Linked DNA regions of Homo sapiens: region 1 is linked to region 2. Evidence: fine-mapped expression QTL. Tissue or cell type: whole blood. Region 2 holds a variant in brackets; the other region holds the start of a gene. All regions are shown on one strand. Distances are between the middles of the regions.

The links. PIP is the estimated chance that this variant, and not a neighbour inherited with it, causes the effect.
Region 1: PLEKHG3 starts here. The variant in region 2 is fine-mapped to the expression of PLEKHG3 in whole blood (INTERVAL, PIP above 0.99).

What each region holds. Positions count from the first base shown.
Region 1 is chr14:64,700,708-64,708,810 of GRCh38, reverse strand. PLEKHG3 (pleckstrin homology and RhoGEF domain containing G3) reads right to left here and starts at 4,387. Exons shown (of 17, transcript NM_001308147.2): 1 at 4,107-4,387. RefSeq lists enhancers at 1-373, 5,607-6,108.
Region 2 is chr14:64,647,359-64,655,461 of GRCh38, reverse strand. No RefSeq gene overlaps it. Among named protein-coding and RNA genes, the nearest start is that of PLEKHG3, 53 kb to the left of the region's middle. The variant A/GTGTA (reference allele first, on the strand shown) is at 3,926.

The DNA of each region.
Region 1 (8,103 bases), 53 kb before region 2:
GTGGAACTGGCCATGACCACTTCCCTAGGCCTCATCCTCCACTGCCCATCTCTCACTTCCTGAACTAGGGCAGGGTCTCCAGGAAGCCACTCACCACAAACTTTGACAGCGGTACTTTAGATTAAACCCCTCCCTTTGTAGGCCCGTGGTTCCAGCAGAGAGGGTCGGAGACTCAGCAGATCAGCTGGGTAGAAGCGGCTAGGAGTTAGGCAGCCGACCCTGAGTTCTCATTGTGTCTGTCACTCTGTTACTTTAAATTCTGGTCCCTGGCGAACCCTTATTCAAAGTCTTCCGAGCCATCTCGAAGCCTCCACCAGAATCCTCCTGCCACCCTTCTGGGCTTTCCTAGGACAGCTCCACCCACCATCTGCCCCCTCCCTCACTTTCCCTACCCCTTGTCCCCGCCCCACTCCGCTTCCGACCTCCAGGCATAATTTACCTGCCGGAGGCTGGGGGAGGGGTGGACAGCCTTCCCAGCTGTGAGGCAGAGTCGGGAGGTCAGGGAGAAGGTGTGATTCATTGAGTCTGGCTGGAAGCAGGGGGAATTCCAGAGCAAGAGGGGGGTGGTCAGGGCTGCCCCTGTCATCCTATCTGTAGGATGGGGGTGGGCATAGGACATACCTGGGAGTCCCACGTCCTCAGCCATCTGCAATCTAGGGTAGGGCAGGAAAGCCTCCCTAACCAGAAAGTTTTTGCCAAGGTTTTCTATTTTCCCCTCCCTCTAATTCCCCACTCCTGCCCAATATCTAAAATGAAAAGCTTTGCACCTACAGTCCTTAGCAATGACATTAAATATCTCATGCTACCCCTGCAGAATTTGGTTGGAGAAATAGTTTATCGAACCTCTCTATAGTCTTTGCTAAGCATTCAACATACGTTATCTCACTGTACATTGCCATGATGCCGCATGTGGTAAGTATGATGACTAACTCCACGTTGGGTAAGAAACACAGCTCAAAGGAATTTAGCACCACATCAAAGTCCACAGGGCTAGTGAGCTGTCAAGCCAGGGATTTGAAACCAAGGTGTGTCCAACTCCAAACTCTGTTCCTCGATGCCACAGTGGGATGAACTGGGCTTCAAGTTAGAAAAGGCAGCGATGAAGAAAAATACCGCCTTCAGGCATCACCTCAAAAGTACCTTCCTCCTGGAAGCCTCCCTGGCCACCCTATCTAAACTGTCACCTCACCCCTTCCATGACAATTCACACCTACCTTCCCTATCATATTTTTTATTTCTGTTTATCACTAACACACTTGCTATTTCAATCTTGTTTATTGTCACTTCTGCTAAAGTCAGCTCCACTGGGTCAATAATTATTGTATATTTTCTTCACTGCTGTGTCTTCTGCATCTGGCATTCATACATAGTAGGTGCTAACTCCTTAACTATTAAATGAATGAATAGAGTACTTTAAAATAGAACTAAGGGGCATGAGTACTGGGAGGAAAAGGTGATCCGTCCATTCAGCAGAAGAAAGGAGAGATGAGAAAAGACGGTGTGGGAATCTGGCCAGAGGTGAGTTGTGGGGCCCAGATGAGCTTGACAAGAGGAAATGAGGATCTGCCAGGTCCGCTGGGGGCTCCAGTAGCCCCTTCCTCCTGGCAGTTGTGATTTCCAGCTGCCAGGGCCCCCGCTGGAGGGCTTCTGCTGAGGAGGGAGGATGGAGTAGGGCGGGTTTGCAGCCACGGAACAAAGGCCTGTGGACTTGCAGCTGGCCAGAGAGGCGGGACAGAGCAGTGGCCTGGGCCAGAGGGGCGGCCTGAGATGGGGGAGGGGGCACAGATGAGGAGCTGAAGACAGCCCTCAGTGCAGCTGCAAAAGCAACACCCTCCCAGAGTCCCTGCAACCCCCAACACAACAGAGAATAGCCAGAGGGCTTCACTTTTAACCCTCCAAGGCCAGGGCGGCCTGGGCTTGTGGCAGCACCCCTGGCTTACAGCTGGAGCCTTCACAAGGTTCTGGGAGCTGGGAGAAGAGAACGGGCAAGGCATACCTCTGCAACAGAGGAGCCTTCCCCCTCCAGCCCTGGTCATCCCGCAGGCCGTGGCCTTTGGCCTCTTCCAGCGTAAACAGTGACCGTGGGATAGCTGCGGATTTGGTAAGGCAAATGTTTACTCTGGGGCTGAGATATTAAGACCAGGGTGTTTTAAACATCCAACAATGGCTCCTGGTATCTAACGTCTCCTTGTGGCACACACGTGGGACATAGCCAGCAAATTGTAAAACCCTTGGGAGACTCCCTCCCGAGCCACTGTGAGCCCTTTAGTTTTAACAGGAGTTTATGGAGCACTTTCCACAAATGAGGCTTCCTTTGATCCTCACCACAGCTCCTATGAGGAAGAGCAGGCAAGTAATCCCACTTTATTTATGTGGAAACTGAGTCAGAAAAGATAAGTGAATTGGCCAGATCATGTTGGAGAAAACACAGATCAGACAATGAGGACATCTGACCTCTGGTTTCTACTTGGCCAATAGGGTCTAAGGCTGAAATCACCTCACCCCTCTGGGCTCTGCTGCCTTCACGAGTAAATGAAGTAGGCTAATCCAAGGGGCCCCCCAGCCCAAGTGACTCGCACTCTTCAACTCTACCAATCTTCCATGCTATGCAGAAGAGCCAGGTCTAAAACTCAGGCATAAACCCGTGCTGGACTATCAGGCCAGTGCTCTTTCCACTTCCCCTGCCATGCCACTTCTAATAAAAGGCAGTAGAAAAGCCCCCAAAGCAGCTCTTCAACAAATCACTCCCTCAGCAGCTAGGACTTGGCCTCTGGGTACCTCTTCCCCCAACTTCCTGCCCCATCCCCAGGGCAAGTTACCCAGGGAGCTAATGGGTTGTCCTATCTTCCAGGAAGGGAGTGGAGGACAGCAGGTGTCGAAAGGAGAAGTGAGGCCATTGCATCCAGGGGGCCAGCCCGGAACCACAGGGGAGAGATGTATAACAGAGAGATAAATGTACACTTTTGGTTCTCACTCCCTAGTTTCCTCCTGGGGAACAGCTGGGGTTTAATCACTCAGGATCCCATCCTTGTCCAACAAAGGATGGCCCGGAAAACCACACTGCTGAAGGCGAGGTGGCCGATGTGCTCAACGGGGAGGCCCTCCCCCGCTCCGGACTGTCATTGCCCTCCCTGCTTATTATTTCTTGAGCAAGGGCCATGTGACTGGGCTGCGTGCAGAGGCACGGCTGGGGAGACTCTGGGAACCCCCACTCCAGGGTTCCCCGTAAGGTGAACGCAGTGTGGGTCTCCTGCTGGGGCCCCCAGAGCAGGGGACAGGCACCTACATATGCCAACAGATTAGCGAGTGACCTCGAGGATCAAACTCTTTCGCGGCCTCTAACAACACCCTCCCCAAAAGCCACACCTCTCCAGCCTCCAACCATTCCATTCTCCCCTCCGTTCTTCCTTTTGTGTTCCAAAGGCGCCCCGAAGAGTCAAAGTAGCTATTTAACGCCTTAAAAATTTAAGCTTGCACGCCTTATACTGGCTTTCCAAACCAAAGGGCTGGGTGTAGGGGTGCGAAGAACCAAACCGACTTCAGGAGTGGACGAGGTCGAGGCAGCTGGTGGCCGGGCTTTCCGCTCCCCGCTTCTGGCCCCCACTCTCCTCCCTGCCGGACAGGTAGCCGAGATTCCCAACAGCGAGCACCGTGCGGCGCCAACCCGGAACAGGCTGCAGGCGCCTCCGGGGCTGGCAGGAGCCGAGGCTCGGGTCCTCGCGCAGAAGGGTCCACCCGCCAGGCCCACAGCTCCAGCCAAACACCAGCCCTCGGGCGCGCGCGGCCTCGCGGGCTTCCTGGATTTCAAACTGAGCCTCTCTGGAGCCGCCCGGCGCATTTGCCCCTTTTGTTTCCGGAGTGGAGGGAAAAAAAGACAGAAAAAGTCTCCCCATACGACCCTCCTGCGCTCGCGCACTCTGCGGCAGGGTGGCCCGGGAAGCAGCCAACACAGTTCCAGGCCCTCCTCGGTCGCCCCGGTCCTCACCCCGCAGGGGGCTGGCACGGGGGCCGCGAAGGGACTGGGGCCCCAGCGTGACTGCCGGCACCGCCGCTCAGCCTAATGCAGGGAGATAAGAGGGGAGAGAGGAGAATCAGGGGACACTCACCGAGCGGTAGCTGCCCCGCGGGCTCGGGACGCGCACGGCGTGCGGGGCTGCCCAGGTGCTGCCGCGACGCGGGCGCGAGTTTGAAAGTCGCTCTCTGAAGGGGCTGAGGCCGCCGACCGCTCCCGCCCACCGCCAGCCCCTCAGCTGGCCCGGACTCGGCCAGCTGCAAGCGCGGCCCCCGGAGACCCCAGGCAGCGCGCGGCTTGCCAGCGCCCGGCAGGAAGTCGAGCGGAGCCGGAGCTGCAGCGGGAGGGCAGGAGGGAGCGAGGGAGCGAGGGAGCGAGGGAGCGAGGGAGCGAGGGAGCGAGGGAGCGAGGGAGGGGCGGGCCAGGAATTTTTCCTGTGGGTGGAGACTCCAGCTCGCGGCTGCAGTCCAGCAATTGGCGGCTCTGCGGGGGCCGGGGCAACCTTCGCGGCGCGGCGAGCCAGAGCCGGGGTAAGGCTGCGGCGGCGGCGAGGCCTGGGCGCGGTTAACGATTAACGCCCGCAGGGTGATGAGCGCGCACCCCCGGGCAGCCTAGATGCTCTAGGATACCAAGACGCACGTGGTGGGGTCACCCTGGTGTCACAGACCTGCTATCACCGCCTCCCGAGACAGCATGGACTGCCAGAACGTACCCCTTGTATGGACAGGGAACACCGGGCCCTGCGAAGGGGGCTGAGGGCTTTCCCAAGTGAGTGACCAGCCGGGATCGATCTGGGGATCCTAATCCTACCAGAGCCGGCCGTGTCCGCTTTTCCAAGTCAGAAAGGCATGTCTTGAATTCCTCACCATAACTCGGTCCCTGTGACGCTTTACAGTGGTAAATGCAGACCTCTGAGAAGCTGACGGGAAAGAGATAAAGGAGACAACGTGAAGGCAACTCCACAAGGAACTGTTAAATAGGAAAAATAAAACACAGAAACCTGGATGATAGAGGACCCGTTTTTATAAAACAAAGAGAACCGTTTGTCTTTATGTCTCTGTATATGACCGTGTATGCATGGAAAGGTACACACCTGGAAACTGGGGGGCAAGGGGTGAGGATGGGGGACAGAGACATTCAATACATTTTGAGCAAGAGCATAAATCCAAAAACCCATAATAATTCATCAGTAAAGATCCTGAAGAACAACAAGCCCGGAGGAGGGAAGCCCAGAGTGGGGCTCCGGAAGAGGAACAACGCCCACTGGTTAGGCGCTATCACTAGTTCCTTGGGAGGAGGAATAGGACGCTGATATTAGAACCACGGGGTATATTTGTTATCCAGGTGTACAGCAAACGATTTCTAGAGGTATCATTTAAAACAAAACAAGCGCCCGCCCCAAAATGCTGCTCTGGGCAAATGCAAGCTCCAGGTGATCTACTGGGAGGGGAGAGGCGGGGCAGGCGCGGAAGGAAATGGCTTTCAGGTGACTTTGAAACTGGATCCTGGCGGAGGGTGGGGTGAAGGCAGCGTCCCGGCTCCTGCCTGCGGAGGAAGCGGTAGGCGCTCGGTCTGGCAGGCCCAGAAAGCGGGGCCCACATTCCTTAGGGAGGGAGGGTGTGTTGGAGGCTTGCAGAGCCCCAGACTCGCGGACCGTGAAGGTGAGAGCAGAGATTGCAGAAGAGGGGCTCGGAAATAGATCAACTTAGTTGGGGCTCCGCTAGACCCCGCCGGCCAGGGGAGAAGTGACAAGTCCCCCTTCTGGCCTTCCAGGACTTGTGGTCACCCCTTCCAACCTCAGGCTTTCACCTTTTTTTGTTTATGCTTTCTTATCTGATCACCTGAATCTTACGAATGCCTTCCGGTCCGCTTCAAATTCCAGCTTCCAAAGAAGCCCCCTGACTTAGCCACTTGTGAGCGACCCTTCACTCCTTAGCCAGGACACGTTACAGTGTTAGTGGCAGTCATAACTGTCCTTTAGTGAATGCTTACCATGCAGAGGGCCTGTGCTACACTCTTAACAAACTGTGTCCCTGGATCCTCACAGCCACCTTGCGAGGTAGGAGATATCCTAATCCCCATCTTGCAGACAGAACACTGAGGCTTAGGGGCAAGGAGCAACTTGGCAAAGATTACACAACCAGCAAAAGCAGTGTCGGGCAAGTGCCTAGATGGGTGTGTGCTTACTATGAGTGTGCTTACTATGTATTAGCCATTCTTCTAAGTACTTTACAAAAACAATTGCAGTAACAGAAAAGGAAACTGAGGCAAAGTCACACAGCTAGTGGGTGGTAGACCTGGAAGTCATAACAGGGAATTCTGCCCTTCACCATCACTGCTTCCAGTTTCTTTCTGACACTTGTTATGCCCAATTCACTTGATTATAATATATTGTTTCTATTAATAATTGTTTTAATTTATATCACCTACTTCCTAAAAAGATTGTAATCTCCCTGTGGTAGAAGTCATATAGGAAGCACTCAGTAAAACAATGCTGAATTCAACTGAAACAATCTAAAGAGTTTGTGAGAAATCGCACAGTCTCTCCTCCGATAATAAAACCCTGTGTCAAGGGCCAGGGGCTCCAGGCTGCAGCCCCTCCACAGCTCGGAGCCTCTTCCTACCAGTTCTTGTTGCAATGGCCTCACCCTGCTATTAAATCATTTATTATTATTATAATACCTTGTGTCTCAGCAATGCCTTTAATCCAAGATCTCAAGGTGTTCTAACAAATACAGGTGAACTCACTTTCACAGTACCCCAGCTGAGATGAGGAGATGGAGGTATTTTCCCAACTGTTTGGATGAGAAAACCAAGACAACAGAGAATTGAGATGATTCACTATGGAAATTAGTGGCAGGGTTTACTCCCCCATCTCTTCCCCTCCTCCTTCCTAATTCTTGGCTGCCAATACTTGCATGAAAATTTCAAATCCCAGAGACAAAAGCCATTGAGTTTTCACAATAAAGGACATTTCCAGACTGTCATTTCAGCTGCTCTATTGTGGCAGACCTCAGGAGAGGGAGGGAACGTAAGCCTAGTAAAGGTTCCCTGGGGCTCTGTGCTCCTGGCTCAGAGGAGCCATGCCTGGCTGGGATGGAGGAATGAAACCTCAAACATGGAGAAAATCCCCCTCAAAAGTGACCTGAAAAGCCCCACCAAGCTCTGAGATCTCAAAGCTTCCAGAGTTCCAAGTTGCATTTTAGCAACATTTCTCAAAAATGTGAGCCACATGCAACAAAGGAAAGAAAAAGATAAATTGGACTTCACCAAAATTTAAAACTTTTATGCATCAAAGGACATCAAGTGAAAAGACAACCCAAAAAATGGGGGGAAATTTTTGCAATTCATATATCTGATAAGAAACTTACGGAAATACATAAAGAACTCCTACAATTTAATAAAGGCAAATAACCCAGTTTAAAAATGGACAAAGGATCCGAATATACATTTCTCCAAAGAAAACATACAAATGGCCAATAAGCATGAGAAAAGATGCCCAATAGTGTTCGCCATCAGGAAAATGCAAATTAAAAACATAGTGAAATACCATTTCATACCCACTGGGATGCCGATAATCAAAGGCAGGTAATAATAAATGTTGGCCAGGATGTGGAGAAATTGAAACCCTCTTGCACTGCTGGCAGAAATGTAAAGTGGTGCAGCTGCTTTGGAAAACAGTCTGGCAGTTTCTCAAAAGGTGTTTCTTGGTTTTGTTTTTTTGAGACAGGACCTCACTGTGTCACTCAGACTGGAGTGCAGTGGCGCAATTCAACAGGTTAAACATAGATTTACTACTTGACTCCACAATTTCACTGCTAGCTATATACCTAGGAGAAACGAAAACACCTGTTCATACAAAAAGTTGTACACAACTGTTCATGGCAGCATTAATTCATGGCTAATACATAAAAACCAAAAAGTAGAAACAACCAGGCCAGGAGTGGTGGCTCACATCTGCATTCCCAGCACTTTGGGAAGCCAAGGTGGGAGGATCACTTGAGCCCAGGAGTTCAGGACCAGCCTAGTCAACATAACAAGACCCCACCCCACCTCTACAAAAAAAAAATTTTTTTTAATTAGCTGGGTGT
Region 2 (8,103 bases):
TAGTGCTTGGGCAGGGCAGATCAGCTCCATCAGAAAACAAGCGCTTGGGGCACACTGCTAGCACTTTCAAAAGGCAGCTTCCAATGCAGATGATTCCAATTCTACACCTTGGCCAAGCTGCCTCTCCAAATGGAGCAGGGCACGTGGGCTTCACTGTATACGCAGACCACGTGGAAGCTGACACCATAACCTTACCCACCGCAGGCTTCTCATGCACTCACAAACCTTCAGCTGGGCCGGTCCTTAGAATTATCTAGGGCAACCCTCTTGATTTCCAGATGACGAAAGTAAGGCTCAAAGAGGTTAAGTGTCCTGCGGAGACACACAGAGCATGTAAGTAGCAGAGCTGATTCACACCCATGTGTCCCACCGACAGCCTAGTTTCTCCGGGTTACCACACCGCCTCTCATTGCCGTAAGTCAGCTTCCCTTTACTTATTTGGGAAACGTATGGGCTGTATGAAATCATTATGTTCTCATTCTTTTTAAACTGTTCCAGTAGTTATGCAGTTTCAAGGTTCTGAAGGCTAAAAGTACTATTATGTGGTATTAAACAAGGTAGACATTAACTGTGACACGGGAGGGATGTCACAAATCCCATTGCTGAAGCTGAAGCTGTGTTACTTATTTTAGAAAACTTTCCATTAGTTGACTTCCCAAATAGAAGTGTTGCTTCCTGGTTTCCCTTGGTGATTTTTTAAATTGTGCTTAAACATGAGTGTCCAGTTGAGACTACATGCAATTCCAGCATAACCAGGCTTGGTAATGACCAGAGCTATTAACCTGTGATGGACCTTGTATCAGCCAAATATTTACCTAGCTCATGCTCACAACAGGTTGGTGGGACAGATCCAACGGCTCCTACTTCAGCTGGGTTTCCGTTTGGATCTTAATGTGAACACAGCTGCTTGGTTTTATTTATGTACATAGATTTTTCTGACATATTTCATCCTTTCCTAAACCAACTACCCTCGGAGACATTGCAACTTGCTCTCTTGCCTCCATGAGTCACCTAAAAACACACTGGTGGTTTCCAGGACTTCCTCAATGTCTTTCTAGCTGTGTCTGGTGTAAGCTTATGGGCTTTCCCTGGCACAAGTTTGACAGATCTACTCACTCATCTTTAATTCAGTTCTACAAACACTGCAGATGTGGTAGAGGATGGTCGTGGGCTCTAGAACAAAACAGCCCTGGTCTAAATCTCAGCTCTTACTTCATAACCTCCAGCAAGTTACTCAACCTCTTCATGCCCCATTTTGTAATCTAAAAAATGGAAATGATAATATAACCAACCGCATTAGGTGATTATGAGAATTAAGAGTTACTATGCGTATCAGCCCTGGAAGAGTGTCTGACACATGTTGTGAATGCTCAGTACATTACTGACAAAATTCCTGCCTACTCCAAGTCAGGCATTGCCAGGCTTTGGGGATATAAGGGTGAATAAAACACAGATCCTGCTTTCAAGAAGCTTGTTCAGAGAACACACACACACACAAAATATACAGTCCAGGCACGGTGACTTACGCCTGTAATCCCAACACTTTGAGAGGTCGAGGTGGAAGGATTGGTTGAACCCAGGTGTTTGAGACCAGCCTGGGCAACAAGCAAGACCCTGTCCCTACAAAAAATTTACAAATTAGCCAAGCATGGTGGCACACGCCTGTAGTCCTGGCTTCTCAGGGGGCTGAGGTGGGAGGATCACTTGAGCCTGGGAGGCCAAGGCTTCAATAAGCCATGATTGCACCACTGCACTCCAGCCTGGGCAACAGAGTAAGACCCTCTCTCTCTCTCTCTCTCTTTCTCTCTCTCTATACACACACACACACACACACACGCACACACACACGTGTATGTGCGTGTGTGTGTGCATGCACGTGTGTATGGCAACATTACATATTCTTATCATGGACTTTTATTTCTTGATTTTTTTGGAGGTGGGAGTCTTGCTGTGTCACCCAGGCTAGAGCGCAGTGGTGCAATCTCAGCTCACTGCAACCTCTGCCTCCCGGGTTCAAGCGATTCTCCTGCCTCAGCCTCCCAAGTAACTAGGACTACAGGCATGTGCCACCATACCTGGCTAATTTTTTTTTAATTTTATTTTTAGTAAAGACAGGGTTTCACCATGTTGGCCAGGCTAGTCTCGAACTCCTGACCTCAAATGATCCACCTGCCTCGGCCTCCCAAAGTCCTAGGATTACAGGCGTGAGCCACCATGCCCAGCCTATCATGGACATTTTAAAAGAAGATAGTAGCATAGCATTTTTGTGTTTCATATGGAAACTTGTTGCTATATTATTACCACTGAATACCAGCATTTTCATCTAGAATTTGTTAAATGTCTCTATCCATTAATTCACCAACATGTATTGAGCACCTGCTGTATTCTAGGCACCATACTAGGCACTTAGGATATACATGTGATACTGACACAAAATGTTAGTATATCATTCTTCACTGCCTTCCCTCTTCCTACACTTCCTAGGCCTCACTCAGGAGTGCCTGTGATTGCCTACCTGGTTCTTGGGGCTTCAGGGTAAGTGGGAGGGTGGAGAGTCAGGAGAGGTTGATTCGATCTATATAACGGAGGTGGCGAGGGGGTAACAGGAGAGATGTGAAAATTTCAGTTAGTTTGAAAGAAGAGATTTGGGGAAGCAATTGCTGTGATGAGAAAACTGGGAAAATTGAAGAGTGAAGAGGAACTTTTGAACTTCTACTGGGCATTCTGCAATGTCTTTCCTTCTTCCCATACTTCTTCGGTAGAGACTTCAATGGCTTTTCAGTGCTTTTGGATGTCAAACTGGTGCTGCTTTTGAATATGATGCCATGCTGTAGCAGCCGGCTTCTGAGAAAGCCCTCAGTGAGCCTTGCCTCCTGATGTTCATGCTCTTGTGTCTTCCCCTCCCACACTGAGTTGGGATGAATTATGTAATAATAGGATATTGCAGAAAAGAAAGAGTTGAACTTCCAATGCTATAACCCTCACTGTGGCTTCCATCTTGCTCAGTTGGATCACTTGCTCTCTGGTAAGTCAGCTGCCATGTTGTGAGGATACTCAAGCCTTCCCATGGAGAAGTCCACTTGGGGAAGAACTGAGCTCCCACCCCCACTCCCTGAGCAAGCATAATTTGCCAGCGATGTGAGTGAGGCTACTTAGAAGTGGATCCTACAGCCCTGACCAACATTGTGCTATGGCTTCATGAGACCCCTGAGTCAGAACCACTCAGCTAAGTCATTTCCAAATCCCCAACCTGTGAGAGATAAAAAATATTCACTGTTACTTAAATCTCCATGTTTTGGAGTAATTTGTTACACAGCAGTAGATAAGCAAAACACTGGCCATTAGTTGGCCAACTTTACTGAGGTTACCCAAATATAACCTGAGTTTCCCAGGCCACCTCAGCCTATGGGAACAATAGGGGACACAGCAAGAATAACACTCAGATTCCATGGCTGGGCACGATGTCTCATGCCCTTAATCTCAGCACTTTGGGAGGCTGAGGCAGGAAGATTGCTTGAACACAGGAGTTCAAGATCAGCCTGGGCAACAGAGCAAAACCCCAGATCTACAAAAAAAATTAAAAATTAACTGGGTGTGGTGGCACACACTTGTAATCCCAGCTACTCAGGAGGCTGAGGCAGGAGGATGACTGACTTGAGCCCAAGAGGTCAAGACTGCAGTGAGCAGTGAGTGTACCACTGCACTCCAGCCTGGGTGACAGAGTGAGACCCTGTCTCATACAAAACCCCAAAACTCAGATTTCACTGGCTCTTGCCTTATCTGCTGAAGCCAGACCTATACCTGCAATCTTCTGTTAATCAACCATCCCACACATCCCACCCCCATAGAAAAATAAGAAGTATGTTTGTGAATCATGAGAAGAGGGACCAGTCTCACGTGTATGTGTGTGTGTGTGTGTGTGTGT[A/GTGTA]CAAGACTGTTCTCCCTGAGTGCTGTTTTGCTCTCTCACCCAGTACTTCCTATGGTTTTCAAGATACCACCATCTCCTGCCAGGAGATGGTGTTGCCACTGGAACTCGTGCCCCTGCCAAGCACCAAAGTCTCCCATGGGCCATGGCCCACTTTCCAGCTATTCACCCTGCAGAACTCACTGGACCAAAGCTGGAGCTGCTCTATGTTGAAGTGGTAGCAAGATGCTTCTCTCCTCTCCAATGCACTGCCCTTGCCCTGGAGGTCTGTAGAGATTTTACTGAGATCTCACTTTTTACTCACAGCCATCTCTCTCCTTAGGTCTCAGACATGTGTCCACAGGTTGGGCAGGGACAGAATAAAAATATTTATATGTTGTCATCAGGATTCTCACTAACCTTTAGTGACCCAGAATTTGTGACTGGGCTAGGCTCAACATGGCTACAGGCAGCTCTAGGCTCATATCATGTCAGTTTGGCCATCCTAAGGAGGGAGAGGACTTCTTGCTTTAGAAGACGTAACTCCCAATAAAGAGCTCTGATTGGCTAGGCTTGGGTCTCATGCCTGCCTCTTGGGCTGAAGTGAGGGGGAAGAAAGGGAACTGTGATTGGCAGCCTCATCAGGATCACCTTCCCCAAGGGAAGGAGGCCTGCACTAACCCTCAAATGTGGGTAGGTAGCAAGGGAGGGGGAGAAGCTGGTGGATAAAAACAACAGCTTTCAGGCTAGGAGCAGTGGCTCATGCCTGTAATTCCAACACTTCGGAGGCCAAGGTGGGAGGATTGCTTGAGGCCAGGAGTTGGAGACCAGAGGCCAGGAGTTGGAGACCAGACTGGGCAACATAATGAGACCCCTATCTCTACAAAAATAAAAATAAAAATAAAAAAATTAGCTGGGTGTGGTGGTGCAACTGTAGTCCCAGCTACTTGGGAGGCTGAGGCAGGAGGATCACCTGAGCCCAGGAGTTCAAGGCTGCAGTGAGCTATGATCATGGCACTGCACTCCAGCCTGGGCAACAGAGCAAGATCCTGTCTCAAAACACACACACACCCCAATAAAACAGCTTTTTGCTGTACCCCCATTTCCAGACCTGCTTAGGCAGCAGTGGCCCCAGCAATCCCAGCCATTCAAGGATACAGTCGCTGCCTCTGCGGAGCTTGCTGCACCCAGACTCAGGCTCAAGTGCAGCACCTTGTTTGACTCGTCCAGTGCACACCTTCCTGAGACGAGTTCAAGGGGCGGGCTGCAATGACTTCTGCACCTACATTATCATCCTTCTTCTAAATTCCCCTGAACGTTCCCCTCAGAGTTGCCTTCCCCTGATTCGCCCCCGATCTGTTCCAATTCTCCAAAAGTTGCTCCCACAGAATGAACTAAAAAAGCATGCGCAGATGCATAATCTCCAGCCCAGTCCTCAGCTTTCTCAATCAGCTGTGGTCATTTTAGGTCGGGGCGCTCTGGAGCCCAGGTGTTATCAGTTCACGTAACGCAGGTGTGGCAGCCTCCCCCTTCCCACCTCATCCCTTGTCCCTTTGAGGTGAGCAGAGAATTGCTCTTTCCTGACCAGGGACATCTTCTCTGCTGACCGCAAACTATCAGTCCTGTGCTGCCACCACCCCCGATGACACAGGGGCTGTGACATTTCACCAGTGTCCCTTTAGGATGCCTGACGGGGTTTTCTCTGTGAACCTGCCTTGCTATCCTCCCCAGGGGGCTGAGGTGATGTCAGCCATCCTTTGTGGATGGCCAGGTGGTTCTTCGAAGATCCGGTGCCGTGGGAGGAGCAGGAGTTTCAACTACACAACGCTGTCATCGCCTCAAAAGCAACATAAGGGGAGAGAGTTGCTGCACAAGCTGCCCAGGGCTGCAATAACAAAGTACCACAAACTGGGTGGCTTACAACAGACATTTACTGTCTCACAGTTCTAGAGACAGGAAGTCCACACTCAAGGTCCCAGCGGGGCCATGCTCACTCACTCGGAAGGTGCTCGGGAGGGATCTGTTCCAAGCCTCTCTTCCTTGGCTCTAGTTCCTTGGTGTGTGGCAACATCACTCCCATCTGCACGTGGTGTTCTCCTGTGGACATGTCTGTGTGCAAATTCCCCCACCACCCTACCCTTTTTTTTTTTTGATACAAAGTTTCACTCTTGTCGCCCAGGCTGGAGTGCAATGGCACAATCTGGGCTCACTGCAACCTCTGCCTCCCGGGTTCAAGTGATTCTCCTGCCTCAGCCTCCTGAGTAGCTGGGATTACAGGTGCCCACCACCATGCCCAGCTAATTTTTGTATTTTTACTAAAGAGAGAGTTTGACCATATTGGTCAGTCTGGTCTTGAACTCCTGACCTCAAGTGATCCGCCCACCTCAGCCTCCCAAAGTGCTGGGATTATAGGTGTGAGCCACCACACCCGGCCAATTTCCCCTTCTTAGAAGGACACCAGTCATAGTCAATTAGAGTTCACACTAATGATCTCATTTTAACTTGTTTAACCCTATCTCCAAAAACAAACAATACAAAAAGACCCTGTCTCCAGATAGGGTCACATCATGAAGTGCTGGTGGTGAGGATTCCAGCCTATCCTCTGTGGAAGAAACACAATTCAACCCATAAGAACTGCAATCCTGGGCCTTCAAAATAAGGTGGTGGGGCTGTAGGCTGCTTTCTGTCTTTCTCTTTTAACTTCTCTTCTGTACTCCAAGTTTTCCTCTTTCCAGGCAACTGACTTTTCCATATCCCCTGGTCCAGGGTTCCTTAGCCCCTCCTTGGCTACAGCAGGAGGTCTCTTGTGGGATTCTTTCTTCTGCCAGTGGAGGCCCCTGTGCTGAGCCATTGTGATGCTGCAGTGCGAGGTGACTGTATGGTTGGGGATCACTATGGAGTTCAGTCTTCTCACCAGCCAGAGGAGCGACAGATGTGTTCACCGCTTTTCCCAAAAACGTGACAAACCATTCCAAGATAAGCACTGACCAGTCTCAGTGCTTGTTGGCTTGTTTGTTTGGTGCAGAGTTGAGTTAATCATTCTCTCCAGTTCAAGGGAATTTCCATCAAGGGTCATCGCTACCTCCTCTTCTTTTTTTTTTTTTTTTTTTTTTTTTTTTTTTTTTTTTCGAGACAGAGTCTCACTCTGTCGCCCAGGCTGGAGTGCAGTGGCAGGATCTTGGCTCACTGCAACCTCCACCTCCCAGGTTCAAACGATTCTCCTGCCTCAGCCTTCTGAGTAACTGAGATTACAGGTGCCCACAAACATGCCCAGCTAATTTTTGTATTTTGTTTAGTAGAGACGGGGTTTTGCCGTGTTGGCCAGGCTAGTGTTAAACTCCTGATCTCAGGTGATCTGCCCGCCTTGGCCTTCCAAAGTGCTGGGATTACAGGCATGCACCACCATGCCCGCCTAATTTTTTGTATCTTTAATAGAGCCAGGGTTTCACCACGTTGGCCAGGCTGGTCTTGAACTCCTGACCTCAGGTGATCCATTCGCCTCAGCCTCCCAAAGTGCTGGGATTACAGGCATAAGCCACCATGCCCGGCCTACCTCCTCTTCTGCTTGGTCTTTTCCTTTCCTCATCAATCGTCTCTCCCAACCCTGCCTCCTTCCAAAGGCACCCACTCTGGGGTTTGCTGCAGGTCCTTGTCAAGTAGATAGAGGTTTTTTGTTTGTACTTGTAATTTATATAAATAGTGTAGTGTTCTAGATGGTATGTGTCTCACCTGTATCATTCTATTGATGTTCCTCATGTTAATATGATTTTATTCCCACTCCTTGTGTACCATAAGCTCTGACATTTGTTAGGTTAAATAACATTTTATTCTTTCTGGACCAGTTTACATTACACGAGCCTTAGAAGTCACTATAATTGATACTCTCCTCCACATCCTGAAGGGGCAATGCTCAGTCTGATTCGATTGACTTCTCATTCTACATCTTTCCACCCATCTCCCTTGGAAAGGGCAATGGGGCCTTTCCCACTTCACCTCATGTGGCCCAGACACTTAAAAATGCACTGCAGTTGGCCGGGCACGGTGGCTCACACCTGTAATCCCAGCACTTTGGGAGGCCGAGGCGAGCAGATCACGAGGTCAGGAGATCGAGACCATCCTGGCTAACACAGTAAAACCCTGTCTCTACTAAAAATACAAAAAAAATTTGCCGGGCGTGTTGGCAGGAGCCTGTAGTCCCAGCT